5 separate regions of the Homo sapiens genome follow, and regions 2, 3, 4 and 5 are each linked to region 1. Evidence: fine-mapped expression QTL. A gene starts in region 1. Each other region holds a variant in brackets. All regions are shown on one strand. Distances are from middle to middle.

The links. PIP is the estimated chance that this variant, and not a neighbour inherited with it, causes the effect.
Region 2: its variant is the best candidate, but not a certain one, in a credible set for the expression of GPR55 in whole blood (TOPMed, PIP 0.70).
Region 3: its variant is the best candidate, but not a certain one, in a credible set for the expression of GPR55 in testis (GTEx, PIP 0.62).
Region 4: its variant is the best candidate, but not a certain one, in a credible set for the expression of GPR55 in whole blood (INTERVAL, PIP 0.84).
Region 5: its variant is the best candidate, but not a certain one, in a credible set for the expression of GPR55 in whole blood (TOPMed, PIP 0.58).

Annotation. Positions count from the first base shown.
Region 1 is chr2:230,923,255-230,927,874 of GRCh38, forward strand. GPR55 (G protein-coupled receptor 55) reads right to left here and starts at 1,988. Exons shown (of 2, transcript NM_005683.4): 1 at 1,914-1,988. RefSeq lists enhancers at 1,333-2,121, 1,685-1,804, 1,925-1,974, 2,795-3,024 and a silencer at 3,245-3,424.
Region 2 is chr2:230,946,579-230,951,198 of GRCh38, forward strand. It overlaps a transcript of GPR55 not described here. Among named protein-coding and RNA genes, the nearest start is that of GPR55, 24 kb to the left of the region's middle. RefSeq lists enhancers at 24-183, 3,481-3,530, 3,741-3,810, 4,001-4,050, 4,181-4,240. The variant T/C (reference allele first, on the strand shown) is at 1,742.
Region 3 is chr2:230,962,689-230,967,308 of GRCh38, forward strand. No RefSeq gene overlaps it. Among named protein-coding and RNA genes, the nearest start is that of SPATA3-AS1, 31 kb to the right of the region's middle. The variant C/T (reference allele first, on the strand shown) is at 2,644.
Region 4 is chr2:230,973,924-230,978,543 of GRCh38, forward strand. No RefSeq gene overlaps it. Among named protein-coding and RNA genes, the nearest start is that of SPATA3-AS1, 20 kb to the right of the region's middle. RefSeq lists enhancers at 198-247, 368-507, 1,922-2,041, 3,146-3,195. The variant T/C (reference allele first, on the strand shown) is at 2,664.
Region 5 is chr2:230,955,160-230,959,779 of GRCh38, forward strand. It overlaps a transcript of GPR55 not described here and the pseudogene COX20P2. Among named protein-coding and RNA genes, the nearest start is that of GPR55, 32 kb to the left of the region's middle. RefSeq lists a silencer at 2,409-2,508. The variant C/T (reference allele first, on the strand shown) is at 2,442.

The sequences.
Region 1 (4,620 bases):
GGAGGGTTGCAACTGAGAAGGTGGCCCTTCCTGCAGCTGCCAGGCTGTTATCTGCACAGAGCATTGCAGCGTGAGCCACCTCAGAGATGGCAGGGCCAGAGCCTAAAAAAGCAGCATTGGCACAGCCGCAGGGATGGATTTGAGGAGCCCTGGAATACTCCCCCAAAAATGCCGCAGTTAGAATACACAGCGTATCCACCAGTAACACCATAGTGTGAATAAAGTCATCCGCCTGTGCCTGAGCTGGGCTTCTGGGGGCCACGATAGAAGAAGGAACAGGACACAGAGGGGACAGAGCACATGACCACAATCTCCCCAATGCCTGAATGTTGCTGGAGCTTGGGCTGGGGGGTTGGAGTGGGGCTGGGAGAGGGGAGGGGCCGGCTTGGGGACGTGAAAGGTGGCCAGCAGTGTGCTCAGTGATCTACGATGGGAACTCAGGACACTCCTAGGAGATTGCCCTAATTATGCCCATTTTACAGATAAGGACAGTAAGGCTTAGAGATGTTAAAGATTCTACCCAAGGTCAAAAAGGCCGTGAGGGACCAGCTGGAACTCATGTTCTGAGTCTCTCCTCCTCGCTCACCCTGGCCCCCATCAGCATCACAAGCAAGAGCATCTGGGATCCAGGAGTTGCCAAGCCCCCTCCTCACTTCTTTGCATGCTCATGCTCCTCTTTCTCCTTGGACTCTCTCCTCCACTGCTAAAAATCCCACCTCTTCCTTGAAATGCCCACTTCCCAGGTTCACCCACATCATCTGATGTGGTTTTCCCAGTGCAGTCCTGAGTGGGTGCCTTGAAAAGTCCTCTGTGTATCCCAGGGGGAGCGTGTCCCTGCTGTCCTCCAGCAACCCCAGGACCAGGACCATGTCCCTTTCACCTTTATCACCGAGCCTCACATACAGTTTGTCGTTGGGAAGGTCTTATTGCATGAAAGAGGGGGTGAAGAAATGACGGAACAAATGGCCAGGTCTGCTGCAGCTCCACAGTGACTGGTGCTCCCTTTACAGCTGGGACAGCCGCTCAGAACCAAAGGCAAACCTTGCCTTCCACAGAGCTGTGGGCGGCACTTTGCCCTGCCCTGTCCTCTCATCCCCACTGCCTCGGGCAGCACAAAGCCCAGGTGAAGCCAGGCCAGCCAGACATGTCCTGACTTTGTGTTCTCACTCTCAGGGAAGAATCTAGAATGTTCAGGGTTCTAAGTGCTGCTGTGTCTTCCCGCCCAGCCTCTCCAAGAGACACTTGGCTAGGGTTAGAGAACAATGCAGCTATAATGTAGGATAGCAACCAGGGCTTTCCTCTCCATCATTTACTGCCCTTGAGCGCCCCGTGAGGAAGAAACCGTGTATTGCCTCATGCCCCAGAGAGGTAAACGGAGGCTAGAGAAATTACGCAGCTGGTGAGTGGGTGAGCCTGGGCTCCCAGGCTCCTTCTGGTCCCCAGTAAGCACTTGCTCAGGGCTGCAGGATGATCCCTGAGAGTGTGTCATCTCGGGCGCTTGGTGGTTTCCCAACAAGATTCTGGGGAATGGGCGGCGGGCTTGGTGGAGGGCGGTGGCACGTGAGCTACATGCCCCGGGAAGGCTCCCAGGCTGCCTATGGGGAGGTTTCCCGACCCGACATGATGCTGCAACCCTGAGTCAGATCAGGAGGAAGTTGAGGGTTCGTAGAAAAATGTCACTCGTAATCGGGGACAAACCAGGTCTGCCTGCCGCTGCTGCTGTCACGGAGGCTGCCTGGAGGCTGCCGCTGCCCTGACACCTGGGACTGCTCGCTGAGTTGGGACAGGTGTGCACAAAGCCCAGGCCCACACAAGCCCCACTGATCTTAGGAGAGTTACCTGCAGTCCACAAGAGCAAGGTCAGGTTGGAGGCTCCGTGCCTTAGTTTCTCTAAATGGCCCAGAGGCTGTTACCTGTTGGTGGTCCGGTGCAGCTGAGAGGGCTGAGAGATGTCATTTCTCCTCCAGGCCTGGCTGTCAGCCTGTTCTGGGGAGAGTCACTTCCCCTCTCTGGGTCTCGACTTCCTTGTGAGTGAAATAAAGGGGTGGGACCAGATGCTCTTTGAGCCGCTCCAGTGTCACCCTGTCTGGCTTAGGGGCTCTTGCTCTGGGGTCTACAGAGAGGCTGTGTGGAACTAGAGTGTGGACATGGGGAGCAGTTTCCAGGAGGAGGGTCTACACTCTCCCGCCCTCTTGGAAGATCTGCACGCCCCCCTCCCGCAGCTCCAAAAAACAAAACAAAAAACCAAAAAGCCAAAAATCACACTGCATGTGTCAAGCCCTGGGAAGCCTCTGGAGGAGGAAGCCTCCTACGCACCCCAGACACCCTAACAGGGGCACCACACAGGGGCAGCCATTCTCAGCACCTGCCAAGGGCCGTCGTGGCTTCCAGCACTTTGGGGGTTTAGGATTTGAAACTGCTGCCCACAGAAAGGAAAGGAAGGTGGTGCTATTTAGTACTTGCAGGTTAGGACTTGCGTGCCTAGCGTCGGAGGAGACCTCAGCCACTGCATGTGTGTCTGCAAGAATGGTCAGTGGGGCCCCACAGGTTCCCCAGCCTCGGCTTCTCTGTCCCAGGCCTGCACAGAGATTTGGGGCAGCCTTGGGCCTGTGGCTTCCTAGGGCCCTGCAAGCAGAGATTTCCCTGGCATCTCCCACCTTCAGGGCTGGGAGGGCTGAGACTCACCCGTGGGCCTGGGTGGCTCTTAGCTGGGAGCCCTCATAGATTCCAGCCCATCAGGAAAGTCTGGGCTGAAACTACCCCGGCAGATGCAGCTCTCATGCCCTGGAGGTGCTGGGAGGCCCTGTCGGAGGACCAAACACAAGCAATTTTTAAAAGCTATGCGTGCTGGGACTTTCAGGTGTCTACAGGAATAGAAACTACTCCTGGGTTTTTTGGATGATTCATCCAACACATGGGTCCCCTCTGTAAATAACACCTTGCAAGTCACTGCAGGGGAACCACCTGGCCCTCTGGAGCTGGGTCTTCCCACTGTCTGGTGAAGAGGTTGATGGAACCATGACAACTTTTAAGCTCTCACCTGGGCTTGTGCGATGGGCAGTGCCAAGTCCACTGCCTGCTCCAGGCCGTGGAGCCCCAAGCTGGCCTGGGTGCCAAGACAGGGCACAGGGCAGTCCTGCCCCCAGCGAGGCCCCCCTACTGGGCCACCAGCCCAATCTAAGCCAAAGGCTGGCTACTGGGCAAGGGGGGGCAGCCAGGCCCGCACCCTGGGTGCGGGAGGAGGCCAGGAGCCTGCTGGGACAGTAGCAGGGAGGAAACACACCGGTGTCTGGCACCCACCTCCATACCCAGAGCCTGCAATGTGAGGCCCCAGGAAGGCATCCACACTGAGTGGCCTGCAGGGAGCAGTGTCTCTGCTCAGCCCCTTCTCAAAGGGAGCCTTGTCTACTCCCATTCTGGCTACCTTCTTTTTTTTTTTTTTTTTTTTTTTTTGATACAGAGTCTCGCTCTGTTGCCCAGGCTGCAGTGCAGTGGCACTATCTTGGCTCACTGCAACCTCCACTTCCCGGGTTCAAGTGATTCTCCTGCCTCAGCCTCCTGAGTAGCTGGGATTACAGGCTTGTGCCACCAGGCCCGACTAACTTTTTTCGTATTTTTAGTAGAGACAAGGTTTCACCATGTTGGTCAGGCTGGTCTTGAACTCCCGACCTCGTGATTCACCCACCTCGGCCTCCCAAAGTGTTAGGATTACAGATGTGAGCCACCGCTCCCGGCCCTGGCTACCTTCTTTTAAGAAATGAATATTTCTACTTTATTGCTGTTGCAATATTAAAATTTTTAAATTTTTAAATTTTTGAAAACATGCACATGATTCAAATACATATGTAAACACATATAGGAAAATATCTGTCCCACTCCTAAATCCAGCTCTCACCTACCCCCCAGGGCACCACTGTTAAGTTTCTTCCAGAGTTTCTGTGCCCGCCCGTGTACACCTGAGCTCTTATTTTCTCCCTCTTTTGACACAGAAGCTAGAGACCACACGAGCTGCTCTGCAGTAGAAGGCATTGTCCACCTCCCTCTCCTGTGGGTATCCCTTGGATACCTTGGGGGATATCCAAGGTATATGGGGGATCCCTTGCCAAGATACGTCTCCAGAGAGACTCAAAGGTTTGAGCTCCTAAGAGCAAGGCTAGGCAGGGACTCGCCCAAGGCCCCGTCCTAAGGCTCAGGCCTGTCCCTCGAGCTTTTCGCCTCCCCTTGCCACAGGCCTGGGGAGTCATAAATAGGAAGACCTTTCTCAGAAAATTTCCCTTAAGCCTCCTGAAACTTCTCCCCCTAGTCCTGCCCACCCTCTCACCATCCAGAATCACTTGGAGGTTTTGGGAGCCTGGGCAGGTCCCTGCCTGTCTTCCAGGCTGGGAGCCCCGAGTTGGGGGGTTTGGGGGCACACACCTTCGACTTCACCAGTGGAGCAGCTTCGGAGCTTCAGGAACCAGCTTCTTCTAGGGCAAGGAACAAGTGAATCTGACTGTGTTTATCAAAGAGCGGGTCCAGGATAGCTGGGCGCTCACCACATCCTCCCCTGACGCTGGTGAAATTCGCTCCTTCAGCAGCCAGAGGCCTGGCCCTGCCCTCGTGGGGCATCCTTTCCCTCCA
Region 2 (4,620 bases), 23 kb after region 1:
TTAGGCCAAGATGCCACGAGGTCAGTGTAAGTGGTGGAGGGTAGAGATCAATGAACTAGAGATCAGTGAAATGACGCTGGCAGAAGCTGATGGTTGTGGAAGCAGGGTGTCCCAGTAGCATGGGACAAGTTCCCACTGCAGCCCACACCTGGACCAGGCCATAGCTGGGGCCAAGTTTCCACTCTGGCAGAGCTGGAAGAAAGCAGGCCCAGCCCATCAGACCTTTTAGGGACCTCCAGGGCCTAACTGGGGCAGGGGCCAGGGCAAGGCAGCTGTGGCTGGGGGTGCTCATGTGGTTCTTTAGGACTCCACTGAGGTTCTTTGAGACACACACCAAACTAGAGAGCAGAACATCTTAATCACATCATATTTTAGTGAACCCCAAAAAGTAAATAAGAATTGGCATAGGTTCATGCTGAACTAACCCTATTGCTCATTTCCTATGTTTGACTTCAGTGTATTCAACTTTCTGACGGCCCTGTCACATTGGCCACACCACAGACCCACGCCTTCCATTCCTTCATCATGCCCAAGCCAGAAAGAGCCATTAGCTGACAAATCGCTCCTTTCCACTATGGGTGTGGGAACCTGCCTGGCTGCCAACAACCCAGTTTGTGTATCAGTCTCCCCTTGGTCAGCACCACCAGAGTTTTGTTGGTTATGGGGCGATCTTACTGAAGTTGGTTAGGTGTGCTGCAGCAGCAAAGCTGGAGCCTGCCAGCTGCACCTTGGACGTGCACCAGCCAACTGGGCTCCAATGCAAAGGGCAAGAGCACGATGAAAGAGCACATTTGCAATCCTAGAAGATTGCATCTAAGTTGCAAGGTATAATTGGGACCCTGGTTACATTTTTAGCTCAGGGGAATAAAGCCCATCCCATACTCTCCACTCCAGTAGGGAGTGTCTGTTGGTCAACTTTATGACCTTTTTTTTTTTTTTTTTTGAGACAGGGTCTCACTCTGTCTCTCAGGCTAGAGTGCAGTAGCCCAATCATAGCTTACTGCAGCCTCGACATCCCAGGCTCAAGCAATCCTCGTGCCTCAGCCTCCCACGTAGCTGGGACCACAGGGGCACACCACCATGCCAGGCTAATTTTTAACTTTTGTAGAGACTAGGTCTTACTATATTGCCCAGGATGGTCTCGAACTCCTGGGCTCAAGCAATCTTCTCACCTCAGCCTCCCAGAGTGCTGGGATTACAAGTGTCGACCACCACATCCAGCCTTTTAGTGCTATTTTTTAAAGTACCATTGTGTTCAACTTCAGCTGGTGCCCCCCCTCCAACTCCTAACATAGCCTGCACCCAGCTACAGCGAGGCTTCCTAAAATACAAATCTGGCCCTGTCCTACCTAAGCAGAAACTCGGCATCCCGCCTCACCAGGCCACGGTGGCTTTGGTGTCTGTCAAGCTCCCCATCAGTGGATGAAGCCTGCAGTGCCCGCCCGGCTCCTTTGTGACATGGGTGTGGCCACTGACTTCAGTTCTCTCCAAGAGGTCTTGGGTGCTGCAGTTGCCACCGCCGCCCACCCCCTGGCCGCCCCCACAGCTTCCTCCCTTGGTGAGGCAAAGCACAGCCCCTATGCTTGGTCTGTGTCTCCCGCAGGCCTCTGACAACAGCTGCTTAGGAGAGCTTTCTCAGTCAGCACTGAAAGGGAACTTAGAACCAGCTGAGCTATCAGCCCCTCCAGGCCTGACTTCCCCACTCAGAGCCTCCCCCACTCCTTCCTCCCTCCCCATCTCC[T/C]GACCTCTGGGTCTGGGTGGCTGCTCTCCACACACCTCCCAACCGCACTGACCTGGGGAAGCAAGACAGATTCAACAGTCCTGATTTTTGTTTTCACTAATTGCAAAATAATAATAATAGTAATAAATAAATCAAAATAAACCAAAAAGAGAAGGAAAAATTCTCCCATAGTCCCTACCCTATATATGGAATAGAACCTACTTTCTCTCGTTGCCTTTGAGGCTTTGTTTCCAGGCAGAGCCAGCATGACATTGGCAGGCATGGTGAAGAGTCAGTTATATAATTCGGATTTTTTCACTTAGAGCTGTAGATATTCCTTCCATGCCAGTGCAGAGTCTTCATCATTATCCTTTTAAACCACATAATATTCTATTAAATGTATATGCCAGCATTTATTTAACCATTCCCCAATTATAGGTCATTTAGGAAGTTTTTCCTTCCTTTGGGAATTATTGTTTTAAAATATATTCCCTGAGGGTTGGGCGAGGTGGCTCACGCCTGTAATCCCAGCACTTTGGGAGGCAGGGGCAGGAGGATTGCTTGAGCTCAGGAGTTTGAGACTAGCCTGGGAAACATTGGGAGACCCTATCTTTACAAAAAATAGTCCGGTTTGGTGGCGTGCGCCTGTAATCCCAACTCCTCGGGAGGCTGAGGTGGGAGGATAATCTGAGCCAGGGGGGTCAAGGCTGCAGTGAGCTGGGATGGTGCCACCGCACTCCAGCCTTGGCAACAGACTGAGACCCTGTCTCAAAAAATAAAATTAATAAATATAAAATATAGTCCCCAAAGAGGAATCACTACATCAACAGGCCCTAATGCTTTTATGGCTCTTTTTTTGTTTGTTTGTTTGTTTGTTTTCTTTGAGACGGAGTTTCACTCTTCCACCCAGGCTGGAGTGCAATGGCGCAATCTCAGCTCACTGCAACGTCTGTCTCCCGGGTTAAAGCGATTCTCCTGCCTCAGCCTCTCGAGTAGCTGGGATTACAGGCACCTGCCACCACACCCAGATAATTTTTGTATTTTTAGTAGAGACGGGGTTTCACCATGTTGACCAGGCTGGTTTCGAACTCCTGAACTTGCGATCTGCCCGCGTTGGCCTCCCAATGTGCTGAGATCACAGGCGTGAGCCACCGCGCCCATCCTGCTTTTAAAGTTCTTGATAGCTATTGTAAGATTGCCTTCCTGGGAAGAATGGGGTGGATTCCATCAATTCCCCGGCCTAGATCAGCACTTCTCAAAGTGTGGCTCAGGCACTCTGTGGGGAAGGGTGGTCTTGGGACACTTTCTGGGGATCCACAAGGTCAAAACTATTTTCATAATAATACTGAAATGTTGTTAGTATTTCCTTTTCCACTGTCTTCCTTTAGTGAGTGTACAGTGGAGTTTTCTGGAGGCTGTATGCTGTGTGATACCACAATAGACTGAATAGAGATAGGAGAGGCCAACCATCTTTCATAAAGCCCAGCATCACAGAGATCTGTGGAAATGTAAAAATAATGCTTCTCTTCTCACTAAATTTATTTTTTTTTTTTGAGACAAGAGTCTCGCTCTGTCACCCAGGCTGGAGTACAGTGGCACAATCTCGGCTCACTACAACCTCCGCCTCCCGGGTTCAAGCAATTCTCTGCCTCAGCCTCCCAAATAGCTGGGATTACAGGCAACCACCACCACGCCTGGCTAATTTTTCTGTATTTTTAGTAGAGACGGGGTTTCACCATGCTGGCCAGGCTGAACGCCTGACATCGTGATCCACCCTCTCGGCCTCCCCAAGTGCTGGGATTACAGGCGTGAGCCATCACGCCCAGCCAGTTTCTTTGTTTTAATTTCTAACACAGGAAACACTGATAGATATCTACATAGATAAGAGCTTTTTGAGATCCTTAACACTTTTTAAGAGTGTAAAGGGGTCCTGAAGCCACATTGTCTGGGAACCACTGGCCTGCACATGATGTGGCAGAATGCAGAGTGTGCTGGACAGACCTTGTTCAGCCCATCGCCTACCTGCCTGTCTCCCAGGCATGGCACCCAGGACAAGACGCAGAGCAATTAGAGCAATTGGCTTTTTTGTCTTTTTATCTCTTCTTGCCACTTTTATTTTCTTCTCATCTTCTCTTTCCCCTCTTTTTTGTTTTTCTCGTTTTGCTCTTCTTTCCCGCACTCCAGCCTCAGACCTCATAACGAGAGCTGCACAGATAAGGAAACCTTCTCTGCTTCACATAAGTCAAACATTTTTTCTCACATCTAAATAGAGATTCGCGACACTGGAAATAGGTTTTTCATTATTACTAATATCATTCACAAGAAGTGACATGTGTGGTGTTATGATAAGTACACACGTGTTGGCTTTTGTCCACAGTTTCTGGCTCGGAACCCCCATAGTCCCTGTTACAGTCTCGTGTTATGACAGTGGCTGTGTTAGGCCTCAGGAAACAGAATCTCTCTGGCCTTCTCCAGCTCTCCTTTCACCTGCCGCAAGGCAGGACTCGTATCTTCCCCCGCCTTTCTGATTGTGGGTCTTAAGACTCTCCCCAGAGAGGGTTCTGTCCTATGCCCTGAGAGAAGGAACGCTGACATCATGAAGCTTCCATAAAAACCCCAAGAGGACAGGGTTCAGAGAGCTTCCGGAGAGCTGAGCACACGGAGGTTCCTGGAAGCTCCATGCCCCTTCCCCTATACCTTGCCCTGTGCATCTCTTCATCAGTGTCCTTTGTAACATCCTTTAGAATCAACGGGCTAATGTGTTTCCCTGAGTTCTGTGAGTCACTCCAGCAAATTGATCAAACCCAAAGAGGGCGTTGTGGGAACCCCAACTTGAAGTTGGTCGGTCAGAAGTTCCGAAGGGCCAGACTTGTGTCTGGGTCAGGGATAGTCTTGGGACT
Region 3 (4,620 bases), 39 kb after region 1:
CGGAAAGAGTTATTTAAGATATTTACGTTATTTAAGAGTTCTTGGCTGGGCACAATGGCTGACACCTGTAATCCCAGCACTTTGGGAAGCTGAGGTGGGTGATCACTTGAGGTCAGGCATTCAAGACCAGCCTGTCCAACATGGTGAAACCCTGTCTCTACTAAAAATACAATAGCTGGATATGTTGGTGGGGACCTGTAATCCCAGCTACTCAGGAAAAGCAGGAGAACTGCTTGACCCTGGGAGGCAGAAGTTGCAGTGAGCCAAGATGGCGCCACTGCCCTCCAGCCTGCGCAACAAGAGCAAAACTCCATCTCAAAAAAAATAATAAGAGTTCTCAGGGAAAGTCAAAACAGAAGAGAAAAAAAAATACCTGAAACTAGAGGAAACTAAAGTTTCTGGCACCTACAGCTATAGGAAACATTAAACACGGCCCAGCTACTAGTCAGATTAACATAAAACCTCACACAATAAGGCCGATTTACTTCAGGTCCTACTATCATATACATCATGTCCAGCTTTCAACCAAAATTTCAAAGATATACTAAAAGACAGTTAAAAACTGTCAACCTAAATAACAGAGAAAGGCTCTCTAAAAGAAAAAGATATTTATTCAGGAATAGAGCATTGCAGTGGGAATGTGTGTGCCACAGTAAACTGCATATTCAAGGAGGAAGAATGAGGATTATATTGTGTCCAGAATTGGTGGGTTCTTGGTCTCACTGACTTCAAGAATGAAGCCGGTGACCCTTGCAGTGAGGCATGTCCGGAGTTTGTTCCTTCCTTCTGATGTTCGGACGTGTTTGGAGTTTCTTCCTTCTGGTGGGTTCAGGGTCTCACTGGCCTCGGGAGTGAAACTACAGACTCTCACAGTGAGTGTTACAGCTCATAAAGGCAGTGCAGACCCAATGACTGAGCAGCAACAAGATTTACTGCAAAGAGTGAAAGAACAAAGTTACCACAGTGGAAACAAAGACCCCAGCGGATTACCACTGCTGGCTTGGGCAGCCTTCTTTTATTCCATTATCTGGCCCCACCCACATCCTGCTGATAGGTCCATTTTACAGAGAGCTGATTGGTCTGTTTTACAGAGAGCTGATTGGTCCGTTTTGACAGCATGCTGATTGGTGCATTTACAATGCCTGAGCTAGACAGAAAAATTCTCCAAGTCCCCACTAGATTAGCTAGACATAGAGCACTGCTTGGTGCATTTACAAACCTTGAGCTAGACACAGGGTGCTGATTGGTATGTTTACAAACCTTGAGCTAGACACAGAGTGCTGATTGGTGTATTTACAATCCCTTAGCTGGACATAAATGTCCCCACTAGATTAGCTAGATACAGAGTGCTGATTGGTGCATTTACAAACCCTGAGCTAGACACAGGGTGCTGATTGGTGTGTTTACAAACCTTGAGCTAGATACAGAGTGCTGATTGGTGTATTTACAATCCCTTAGCTAGACATAAAGGTTCTCCAAGTCCCCACTAAACCCAGGAGCCCAGCTGGCTTCACCTAGTGGATCCTGCATCAAGGCCACAGGCGGAGTTGCCCGCCAGTCCCACCGTGCACCCGCACTCCTCAGCACCTTGGGCGGTGATGGGACCCAGAGCCACGGAGGCTCGGGCGGAGCAGGAGCCCACGGAGGTGGGGAGGCTCGGGCATGGCAGGCTGCAGGTCCTGAGTCCTGCCCTGCGGGGAGGCAGCTGAGGACCCGCGAGAATTCGAGTGCAACGTGGGCGGGCCGGCACTGCTGGGGGACCCAGCGCACTCTCTGTGGCTACTGGCCCAGGTGCTAAGCTCGTCACTGCCCAGGACTGGTGGTGGCGGCCGGCCGCTCCTACTGCAGGGCTGCCAAGCCCACACCCACCCGGAACTCGCGCTGGTCCGCCAGCACCCCGTGCAGCCCCGGTTCCCACCCGCGTCTCTCCTTCCGCGCCTCTCCCTCCACACCTCCCCGCAAGCAGAGGGAGCCGGCTCTGGCCTCAGCCAGCCCAAAGAGGGGCTCCCACACAGTGCAGCGGGAGGCCGAAGGGCTCCTCAAGCGCGGCCAGAGTGGGCGCAGAGGCCAAGGAGGCGCCGAGAGCGAGCGAGGGCTGCCAGCACGCTGTCACCTCTCAATATGATTGTTTTGAAATGATTATCCTTGGCTACAAGAGTCAGTAACAAAGGTGATGCCTGTCCAAGGTTGAACATTTAGCTTTGCTGGGCAGATTTCCTTGCGGAAGTATTTTTTTGTGTAAGGTTACAATGGCTTTTGTGCAAGGTTTTGGTTTTTACAGAGCCTTTTGTGATAGTTTTGTTATCACACCAGTCACACAAAGACAAATACTGTATGATTTCACTTCTCCAATGTCCTAGAGTAGTCAAATTCACAGAGATGAAAAGTATAATTAGTTTTTGTTTCATGGCTATAGAATTTCAGTTTTCCCAGGTGAAAGAGTTCTGAGGCACTCTAGTATGGATCGGTCTCCCAGATGAACTCATCGTGGGTGGTGGTGATGGATGCACAACAATATGACTGCCACTAAACTATACACTTAAAAATAGTTAAGATGGTAATTTTTACGTTATTTATATTTCACCACAAAAAGAATGTCTAACTTTTAAAAAGTAAATAAATGAAAGAAGTAATGGGATGCAT[C/T]GTACCATACAAACTCTAATCAAAGAAAGGTGGGGCAACTGTATTAATTGCAGATAAAGCAGACTTCAGAACAAGGAAAATTATAAGGGAGAAAGAGGAACATTACATAGTGATAAAGGGATCAATTCCCCAAGAAAATAGAATAATTCTTAACATATATGTACCTAACAATGTCAAAATATGTAAGGCAAAAACTAGTAGAATTGCAAGGCAAATTAAAATATCCATTCTTATAGTTGGATACCTCAACATAAGAGATCAGTAGCTGACATATCCAATAAGGATATAGCTGAACTGAACAGCAGCATCAATCAACAGGACATAATAGACATTTATAAACAAATTCATCCAACAACAGTAGAATACACATTCTTCTCATGCTTACCAGAAATATTTACCACAATAGACCACATTCTGTGCCATATATGGAACATAAACATGTTTAAAAGAATTGAAGATGCAAAAATCCTCAATGAAATGGTAACAAATCTTTCAATAATGTCAGATTTGTCCAACACTGAGATTTATTTCAAGTATGCAAATCTGACTCACATTCTTAAATCAATTTACATAATTCATCACATCAACAGGCTCAAAAAGAAAAATCATATGATCACATCAATAAATGGAGAAAAAGCATCTGACAAAATTCAATACCCATTCATGATAAAAATACAACCCAAAATCTTCAGCAAACTAGGAATAGAGAAGAACTCCCTCAACCTGATGAGGAACAGCTACAAAAAACCCCTACATTTAACGTTAGACTTAATGGTGTAAAACTAGATGTTTTACCGTAAAATCATGAACAAGTCAAGGATGTTCTCTCTCACCAGTCCTTTCTATATCATACTGGAATTCCCAGCTAATACACTGCATTGTAAGGCAGTTTCATTGTGTGAACATTGTAGGGTTCCTACAATGGCATAGCCTACTGCACACCTGGGCTATACGTGTTAGCCTACATGGCATAGCCTACTGCACACCTGGGCTATATGGGTTAGCCTGTTGCTCCTAGGCCACAAGCCTGTGCAGCATGTTTCTGTACTGAATACTGTAGGCAATCGCAACACAATGGTGTATCTAAACATAGAAAAATATCGTTCAAAATATGGTAGGAAAAATAAAAATATGGTACACCTGTGTAAGGCGCTTACCATGAATGGAGCTTGCAGGACTGGAGGTTGCTCTGGGTGAGTCAGTGAGTGGTTGGTGAGTGAACGGTAAGGCCTGGGACATTACCGACCACTGCTGTAGACTTTGTAAACACTGTACATTTAGGCTACACCACGTTTATGAAAAATTTGTTCTTTCCTCAAGAATAACATAACCTTAGCTTACTGTACTTTTTTTATTTTACAAACTTTTCAATTTTTAAAAACATTTGGACTTTTTTATAATAATACTTAGCATAAAACACCAACATATAGAGCTGCACAAAATATTTTCTTTGTACCCTTATTCTATGAGCTTTTTTTTTTCTTTTTTTCTTCTCTTTTTTGAGGTGGAGTCTCCCTCTTGTCGCCCAAGCTGGAGTGCAATGGTGTGTCTTGGCTCACTGCAACCTCTGCCTCTTGGGTTCAAGCCATTCTCCTGCCTCAGCCCCCCAAGTAGCTGAGATTACAGGCATATGCCACCACGCCCAGCTAATTTTTGTATTTTTAGTAGAGACGGGGTTTCACCATGTTGGCCAGGCTGTTCTCAAACTCCTGACCTCAGGTGATCTGCCTGCCTCGGCCTCCCAAAGTGCTGGGATTACAGGCATGAGCAACTGTGCCTGGCCAAAAATAAAGTCTTTCTGTAAAGCCACCATAAGCAGTCAAAAGATAAATGCCAAACTGAAAGAAAAAAAAAAAACTTTTCACCACTTATATACAAGCAAATCAGTGAGAAAATGCTAACAACCCAATAGAAAGGGGGCAAGGAGGACATGAACAGACAGACGGTTCACAAAAAAAGAAATACAGTGATTTTTAA
Region 4 (4,620 bases), 51 kb after region 1:
TCCTCCCCTTCCCTCCCACTGTCCCCTTCCACCTATCCTTTCAGGTAGGTCTTACACAAATGGCCCCTCCTCTGTCCTGTCTTTCCTGATCCACCCTGTGGCATTTCTCCACTTCCAAACTTCTCTGGTGCTTTTACTTGGCGTCAGGTGACATGCGATAAGACCTGGATTAATTAGTTAATGTTAATAACATCTGCTTGACTGCCAATCCTGAAAAATACCGTAATTAACATCATCAACCAGCCATAGGGAAACCACCTTGGACCTCCCCGTGTAAACTACTTTGGGCAGTGCCTTGGGTTTTTCAAGAGTTTGTCAGGCACTTGAGGTTGAGGCTCGAAGAAAGAATATTATTTGATTCTTAGCCATGGTGGGAACCGACATTTATCTAAGTGTTTTTCATAGACAGGAAGTGGTAATTCTCACCCTCCCTGATCTGGGCTCTGACTCACTGGGGTGCCCCAGCCTCTGGGCCTGGGCTCACTAGTGGTAGCCAGCTGACCTGAGCATCAGAGTAAGATGCGTGCCTGAAAAATTCCCCTGGTGGGGCCGGTCATGAAAAGTGCCGTTCTCCTCATTCATGTGGTTTTGTCAGGATGCCCGGATTCCGCAGGCCCGGGCCAGTTATTTTGAGCACACAAGTCACTTTAAAAGACCCCTAAAGGTCACTGGTCCCAAGGATTATTTCACCCCCTCACCACAGTTAATGTCGTCTCCCCACCTCTGTTTTTCTGTATTCCCATAACACATTCTGAGTGTGGCTATGTGATGTAAAGAGCTGTTTTCATGCAAATGTTCAGGGTAACATCATGCATAGTGTCTTAGTTCATCTCCTGCCGCTATACCAAAATACCACAGACTGGGTAATTTACAAGGCACAGACGTTTATTTGGCTCATGGTTCTGGAGCTGGGAAGTCCAAGAGCGTGGTGCTGGTATCTAGTGAGGGCCATCCCATGGCGGAAGGCATCACGTCGTGAGAGAGAACACACGCGAGAGGAAGGAAAGAGGGGCAGAATTCCCTGATTTTATATCTAAGTCACTCCTGTGACAGCTAATCCAGTACCCCAATAATGGCCTGAATCCACTCATGAGAGCTGTGTTCCCATGACCTAATCACCACTTAAACGTGCCACTTCTCAACATTGTTGCACTGGCAATTAAGTTTCCAACACATGAACTTTGGGGGACACATTCAAACCACAGCACTTAGAATATAACAGGATTGCCCCCCTACAGCCATGAGTCCCTTGGATCACCAAGTTAATGTAACAATAACAAAGTCTAATATGATTTACAGGAAATTGGAAGCTTTAAGTAGCCTCGTGAAGCCAAAGGGCAGCATTAGAGCATATCTTTTGACACCCGAAGCTTGTGTCAAAAAGGGTATTAACAGTTGACCGCCTCACACCCACGAGGATGACTATAATTTTTTAAATGGAAAATAACCATTGGCAAGGATGTGGGAAAACCGGAACCCTCCTACTTTGCTTGTGAAAAATGTAAAACGGTGCAGCTGATGTGGAAATCAATTTGTTGGTTCATCAAAAATTTAAACATGGGGCCAGGTGCAGTGGCTCACGCCTGTAATCCCAGCACTTTGGGAGGCCAAGGCGGGCAGACCACGAGGTCAGGAGTTCGAGACCAGCCTGGCCAACATTATGAAACCCCGACTCTACTAAAAATACAAAAATTAGCCTGGCGTAGTGGCACATGCCTGTAGTCCCAGCTACTCGGGAGGCTGAGGCAGAAGAATCGCTTGAACCCGGGAGGCAGAGGTTGCAGCGAGCTGAGGTCATGCCACTGCACTCCAGCCTGGGTGACAGAGTGAGACTTTATCTCAAAAAAAAAAAAAAATTTAAACATGGAGTTTCCATATGACCCAGAAGTCCCATTTCTAGTATGTACCCAGAAGAATAGAAACACAGGTTAAAACAGTGACCAAAATGTAAAAACAGCCCAGCTGTCCATAAGCTGTAAATGGATAAACTAGACTGTAGTACATTCATAAAACGGAATATTTCATCATAAAAAGAAGGCACTACCAACGCATGCTGCAGCTTGGATGAACCTAAGTGAAAGAAGCCAGACACAAAAGGACACATATTGTATGATTTCATATGTATGAAATATCCAGGATAGGCAAATCCATTCGAGACGGAAAGTAGGTTGGTGGTTGCCAGGGCCTGGGGGAGGGGGAAATGGGGCGTGGTTTTTTAATGTGTATGAGGTTTCCTTTGGGGGTGATAAAAATGTTATGGTTGAATGAGACGGTGAACGTACTGAAGCCACTGGATGTACACTTTAAAATGGTTAAAGTGGGCCGGGTGCGGTGGCTCTGCCTGAAATCCCAGCACTCTGGGAGGCCGAGGCAGGTGGGTCGTCTGAGGTCAGGAGTTCAAGACCAGCCTGGCCAAAACGGCGAAACCCCACTTCTACCAACAATACAAAAATTACCTGGGCATGGTGATGCATGCCTGTAATCCAAGCTACTCGGGAGGTTGAGGCAGGAGAATCGCTTGAACTCGGGAGGCCAAGGTTACAGTGAGCCGAGATTGCGCCACTGCACTCCAGCCTGACAGAGCAAGACTCTGTCTCAAAAAAAAAAGAAAGAAAGAAAGAAAGAAAGAAAAATAAATGGTTAAAGTGGCAAATTTTATGCTA[T/C]ATAAATTGTGCCTTAATTTTTGAAAAGTTTACACTTTGAGTGAGGCAAGTGTTTGGCACAGAAACCACTTCTCTCCTGGCAACACTTCATAATCCTCCAGTGGCAAAGCCCCTCTCCGCAAACCCATCTCTCAAGCCACGCACGTCCCAAGAGACACAAGAACACTAGAGGCCAGACAGGAGGGGACAGCCTGCATTGTGTCCTTCACCCTTATTTGGACCTTCGCCCTATTGCCTTCTCACACTCTCAGAATCCAGAGGTCATGCCAGTTCAAAAGGAGCCGGTATCATGGAGACTGGGGCTCAGAAACCAATACCCCCAAATATGGCTCTGTGACATGCTGAACTGAAGAAGAAGCCACAAGATTTCTCTGACCTCCCCCAACCCCCGCCTCTGTCTCAGTCTGTCTCTCTCAAAGCACAGAATGAGGTTGTTCTCTGAAGTTCCCTTATCTGCCTAAAGCCCAGACTCACTAAAGAAGAAAACAATTACTCCTGGTCCCTTCCTAAATTTTCATGAACTGAACTCATATCCAGGAAGAAAGACTGACATCTATCAACACAGCTAGGCAGACTTTTGTCACAAACCGTTGTATACTCTGCAGGCACAACAGACTTTGTCCCAGGCCATTGTATGTTCTTCAAGCCCATTGAATTTCTCTAAAAATCACTTAAACTAAAATCATCCACACTGCCCCATCTCCCTTTCCCCTAAGAAGAAGGGTATATAAGCATATGTACCCCGCTGGGTTATCGAATAATCACTCTGCTACAGTTCCCCATGCTTGACACGTTAAAATAAATTCATAGTGTTTTATCTAATTAACCTGCCTTTTGTGAGTTGATTTTTGTGCAAACTTTCTGAGAGCGAAGGGGAAGTTTTCACGGGTATTGCATGGTCTTCTGAAATAACTAGCATTAATATAGATTAGACAAAAACCAACCCTGAACAGGTTCCATGTGACAGCAGAATGTTCTGAAATGGGAAGGAATGAATGTGAGCATGAGAGGTCTGTGTGAACGGATAATGAGGTTCGGGGTAAGATGCAAAGGAGGATATATATTATACCATCTTTCATATGGAAAGAAGAGAAAATGAATACGTGTATGTGTTATTTTTGTGAAAAGAAATACAGTATTAAACAGACACTAATGGAAGGCATTCACCGTGGAGGTGGGAAGGAATGGGGTAGAAGGGATAGGAACGGCAGTGAGGCTTCTCTTGTATATCTCATATCATTGTCACTTTTTATTTTTTTATTTTTTCAGAGACGGGGTCTCGCTCTCTCACCAAGGTTGGAGTGCAGTGGCTCACTGGAGCCTCAGCCTCCTGGGCTCAAGCAATCCTCCTGCTTCAGCCTCCCAGTGGCACACGCCACCGTACCCAGCTATTTATTTATTTATTTATTCATTTATTTATTTATTTATTTATTTTTGTAGAAATGAGGTCTTCCTACGTTGCCCAGGCTGGTCTCAAACTCCTGGGCTCAAGCAATTCTCCCACCTCGGCCTCCCAAAGTGCTGGGATTACAGGTGTGAGCCACTATTCTCAACCCATTTTTACTTTTTAACTACATAAATGTTTCACGTATTTTAAAAATAAAATTAAATGTTAAAAAGGTGGGATAAAGAATACCCTACAATAGAATGCAAAAGAAGGAAATCAAACTGATAACGCCTCAAACTGATACCACAACCACACAGAGCAAACACTCTGATTGTGGAGAAGGATCTGTTCTAAGAACAGAAGAACTATAGAAAAACTTCTATTTAGTATGTTTACTGTTAGCAGTAATATTGGTCTTGTAATTCTGAAACTCTTTTGTGCATGTATAGTGGAAAGCAAATAAGCAAATATATATTTTACTGACGGGGAAAAAAGATACTAGTAGTCAGTAAAGAAGTGAAAGAAAAACTGTAATGTTAAATTTGAGTAGGAAATATATCAGTTTGAACT
Region 5 (4,620 bases), 32 kb after region 1:
ACTTTGAGTGGCAAAGAAAAGAATAATTCACAATCCACTGTTGAAATTTTGTCAGATAATACAAACAACAAATGTTGTTAGCTGTCTAATTATTTTGTGTTATTTCCTTAAGGAAATTTCTCCTCATTTTTACCCAGTAGAAAGGTCTTGACTTCCTATTTTCCATGTCTCCTTGATGTGACAGCATATCTGAGTCCTTGTTATGGGCACACGTGACAGTGCATCAGATGCTCTCAGGAAAGAAAGTGGCTTTCACACAGATTCCTTGCTCACCTTAACATAACTGTACAGAATTCCCACAACACAGACACAGGCTTTTCTCACCTTACATTCTCTCCAGCCTGTTAAGACAGTTCCAGTGACTAAATCTGGTAGCACATTAGCAGTATCACTACTCAAGGGCCTATTAAACATCAGCTCAATGGAAACTTCTTAGAATTGTAAAGCAAATCAAATACAATTCAAATGTAGAGAAGGATTACACTTAAATGGTAGACCATAAAGGAGACTCATATGGGAAAACACAGCCAGAAAAGATTATGCCAGTGTCTTTTTGTTTTGTTTTGTTTTGTTTTGTTTGAGACGGGGTCTCATTCCATTGCCCAGGCTGGAGTGTGCCTGCAGTGGTGTGATCACGGCTCACTGCAGCCTTGACCTCCCGGGCTCAAGCAATCCTCCCACCTCAGTCCCCTGAGTAGCTGGGACTACAGGCGTGTGCCACCACATCTGGCTAATTTTAAATTGTTTTGTAGAGTCAGGGTCTCACTATATTGCCCAGGTTGGTCTCAAGCTCCTGGCCTCAAGTGATCCTCCCTCCTCAGCCTCCCAAAGTGCTGAGATTATAGGCATGAGCCACCATGCCCAACTACACCAGTGTCTTTAAACTAGAGGATTCCTAATTCTCCTTAGGAGAATCCCAATAGCTAGGACAGTGGGAGGTCTTGTTCTAACATTTACCTGAAAGCAGGATTTTATTCCCAAATTTATTTTATTTACTTTATTTATTTATTTATTTATTTATTTGAGATAGAGTCTCACTCTGTTGCCCAGGCTGGAGTGCAGTGGTGAAATCTCAGCTCACTGCGACCTCTGCCTCCTGGGTTCAAGCAATTTTCCTGCCCCAGCCTCCCGAGTACCTGGGACTACAGACATGCACCACCACACCCAGCTAATTTTTTGTATTTTTAGTAGAGTTGGCAGTTTCACCATGTTGGCCAGGCTGGTCTCAAACTCCTGACCTCAAGTGATCCACCCGCCTCCAGCCTCCCAAAGTGTTGGGATTATAGGCATGAGCCACCACTCCTGGCAATCTTTTAATTTTTTTAAATATCAAACTTGCAGAAAAGTTGAAAATCAGTTAAACAAACACCCAATTACCCTTCACTAAATATATATACATTTTTGCTGAAGCGTTTGGAGTAAGTTGCAGACATATGCTCACTTCACCCCTAAATACTTCACCTGCAGCTCCTAAAAGAAGAACATTCCTTACATAACCCAATACCATGATCACAATGAAGAAATTTAACATTTAACATGGATACAATAATATTATCTCATAATCTGTATTTTAAAAAAATCTTTATCTTGCATTTAATCAGGGTTCATGTGTTGTATTTGACTGTTTAATACCTTTTCATCTAGAGCTGTCTCCCTACCTTTTTTCGTCTTTCATGACGTTGACATTCTTGGAGAGCCTAACGGACTATTCTGGAATCTCTATTTGCCTAATTACTGCCTCATGATGTAATTCAGATTAACCTTTTTTTTTTTTTCAGTTCTAAGATCCCCCTGTGGATGCCTGAAACTGCAGAGAGTACCAAGCCTGACTGCCGCCAATCAGAAGTAGTTTCTGTTCAGGTCTTCCACCCACGAATGTAATGCCTTTTTCGTCTTAACTAAGCACTTATCACGCACTGTGGTCATCACTTTTGCAGTCTGAGGTACAACAGCAAAACCAGCACACATTCTTTTTCTTTCTTTACAATTTCAGAATTAGAAATTTTATTCTGACCATAGATTTTTGGCAATCTCAGCAAATGATTTTGTTTCTTGAGAACTTTTGCCTTTTCGCTTAAAGGAAGCACTTGAGGTCTTCTCTTTGGCATATCCGAATTGCTGGCATCACTACGCTTGTGCTTTGGGGACATTATTTAGTAAAATAAGGGTTCCTTGAACACCGGCACTGCGATACCATGACAGTCGATCACTGACGGCCGGTGGTGTCTCCAGCATGGATACGCGGGACAGAGGGATGATTCACCTCCTGAGCAGGATGGAGCGGGACAGCGAGAGATTTCACTGCGCTGCTCAGAACAGCGCGTGATTTAAAACTTGTGAATTTGGGCGGGACGGGGAGGGGCGCGGCTGGCCGGTCTTCCTTCTCCCGCGGCGCCGGCGGTGCTGGGCGGGTGGAGGCGGGGAGTCGTCCCCGTGGCCGC[C/T]GCTCCGGAGCCCGGCGAGCCCGCGAAGGGGAAGCTCTTTAAGCTCCTAGGCATTTCAGGTGTTGAAAATATTCCCTGTGCCCGGGATTCAATATTGTATGGTTCATTAGGATCTGTTGTGGCTGGCTTTGGACTTTTTTTTTGTTAACTAGTAGAATTAGAAAATCATGTGATGTTGGAGTAGGAGGATTTATCTTGGTGACTTTGGGATGCTGGTTTCATTGTAGGTATAATTATGCAAAGCAAAGAATCCAGGAAAGAATTGCCAGAGAAGGAATTAAAAATAAGATATTATGTGAAAGTACCCATCTTGATCCTGAAAGAAAAGAAACCAAGGGCAACAGCAGCAATTGAACAATCTTGAGCATAGAAATCAGACTCCCTGAAGTCAGTGTGAACAAAGCTAAGCTCAACCACATAAAACATTTTATGTACAATAAGCTCTCAATCAAGTAAATAAAGTTTAAGTTGTAATAAATAAAGAAAGAAAGGAAGAAAATTTTTGAATTATTTGTGGAGTTTTAAATTTAACATTTTCAGGCTGTGGCTAAAACTCAGGATAGTGAAACCACACATAAGAGAGTACTACTGTTATCACATCAGCAGGCATATAATGTTAGTCTCATTATTTGTAAACCTAACTTTAAAAAATTTTTTTAAATGTTTATGGGTACAATGTAGGTGTATATATTTATGGGATATATGAGATGTTTTGATACAGACATGCAATTGTAAAATCATGGAGAATGGGGTATCCATCCCCCTCAAGCATTTATCCTCTGTGTTACAAACATTCCAATTATACTCTTTTAGTTATTGTTAAATGTTCATTTCAGTTATTATTGACTATAGTCACCCTGTTGTGCTATCAAAAGTAGGTCTTATTCATTCTTTCTATTTGTTGTACCCATTAACCATTCCTACCTCCCTCTGACAGTGCCCCCACCCCTGCAACCACCACCACTCCCCTTCCCACACTCTGGTAACCATCCTAACTGTCTACCTCCATGAGTTCGATTGTTTCCATTTTTAGATCCTACAAGTAAGTGAGAACATGCAATGTTTGTCTTTTATTTTATAAACCTAATTTCGATCATTTAGTTAAGGTGATGTCCAAAAGATCTCTCCACTGTAATTAACACATAATCTGCAAAATGGTAGTTTGGTAATGTGTAAATATCCCATACCCAAGGACCTCTCACCCTATGGCCTTAGCACCCATTGACCATATTTTCTGAATCAGTTATAACGAGGGTCTTTACAAAATAGTGATAATCTATTTCTATCATTCTTTCTATCTTTATTAGCCGGCATTCTTCCATGAAGACAAGCTGAAATCTTGGTTTATAACTGTCATAAATCACATTTCAAGCAGCAGGAACTCTCCCACTGGAAATACAATGAGAAGTACAGTGTGCTGTGTGAGGTCACAGCAGTTCCAAAAATGGAAATCAGCATAGCTTTGGTTCCTACTTTTCTTCCTCCTCCTCACACTTTTTCTCCTCCAGCTGCTCCATTTATCGAATACTTTGTTGCCAGTGTTGTGGTTTAAGGGCTTCCAACAGGCCAGGCACCTAGCTCACGCCTGTAATCCCAGCACTTTGGGAGGCCAAGGTGGGCAGATCACTTAAGCCCAGGAGTTGGAGACCAGCCTGGGCAACATGGTGAAACCCTGTCTTTAGAAGAAAAATTTAAAAATTAGCTGGGTGTAGTGGTGCATGCCTATAGTCCCAGCTACTCAGGAGGCTGAGACAAGAGGATCACCTGAGCCCAGGGAGGTCAAGGCTGCAGTGAGCTGTGATTGCGCCACTGCACTCCAGCCTGGGCAACAGAGTGAAACCCTGTCTCAAAAAAAAAAAAGTTGCTTTACATACATAAAATCATTTAGTTATTCCCAGCAATCCTATGAGGTAGGTGATAGCAGGCCCATTTTTCAGATGAGGAAATTGAAGCGCAGAGAAGCAGCTTGCCCAAGGACGTCCAGTGAGTGACAGACCTTTGAACTCAGATGCATTTGACTTCGAAAGTCATGTTCCTGCCCAGCCACATTCCTAAAGCACTGCATTATTTTTTTTTTTGTATGCACAGAAAACAATCAGAGCAACAGTAATTCTTGATTTTTGTTGATTGCTAAACAACCCTTCATCCTTCTCTCTGAGTATTAGCAATGCAAAAGGCC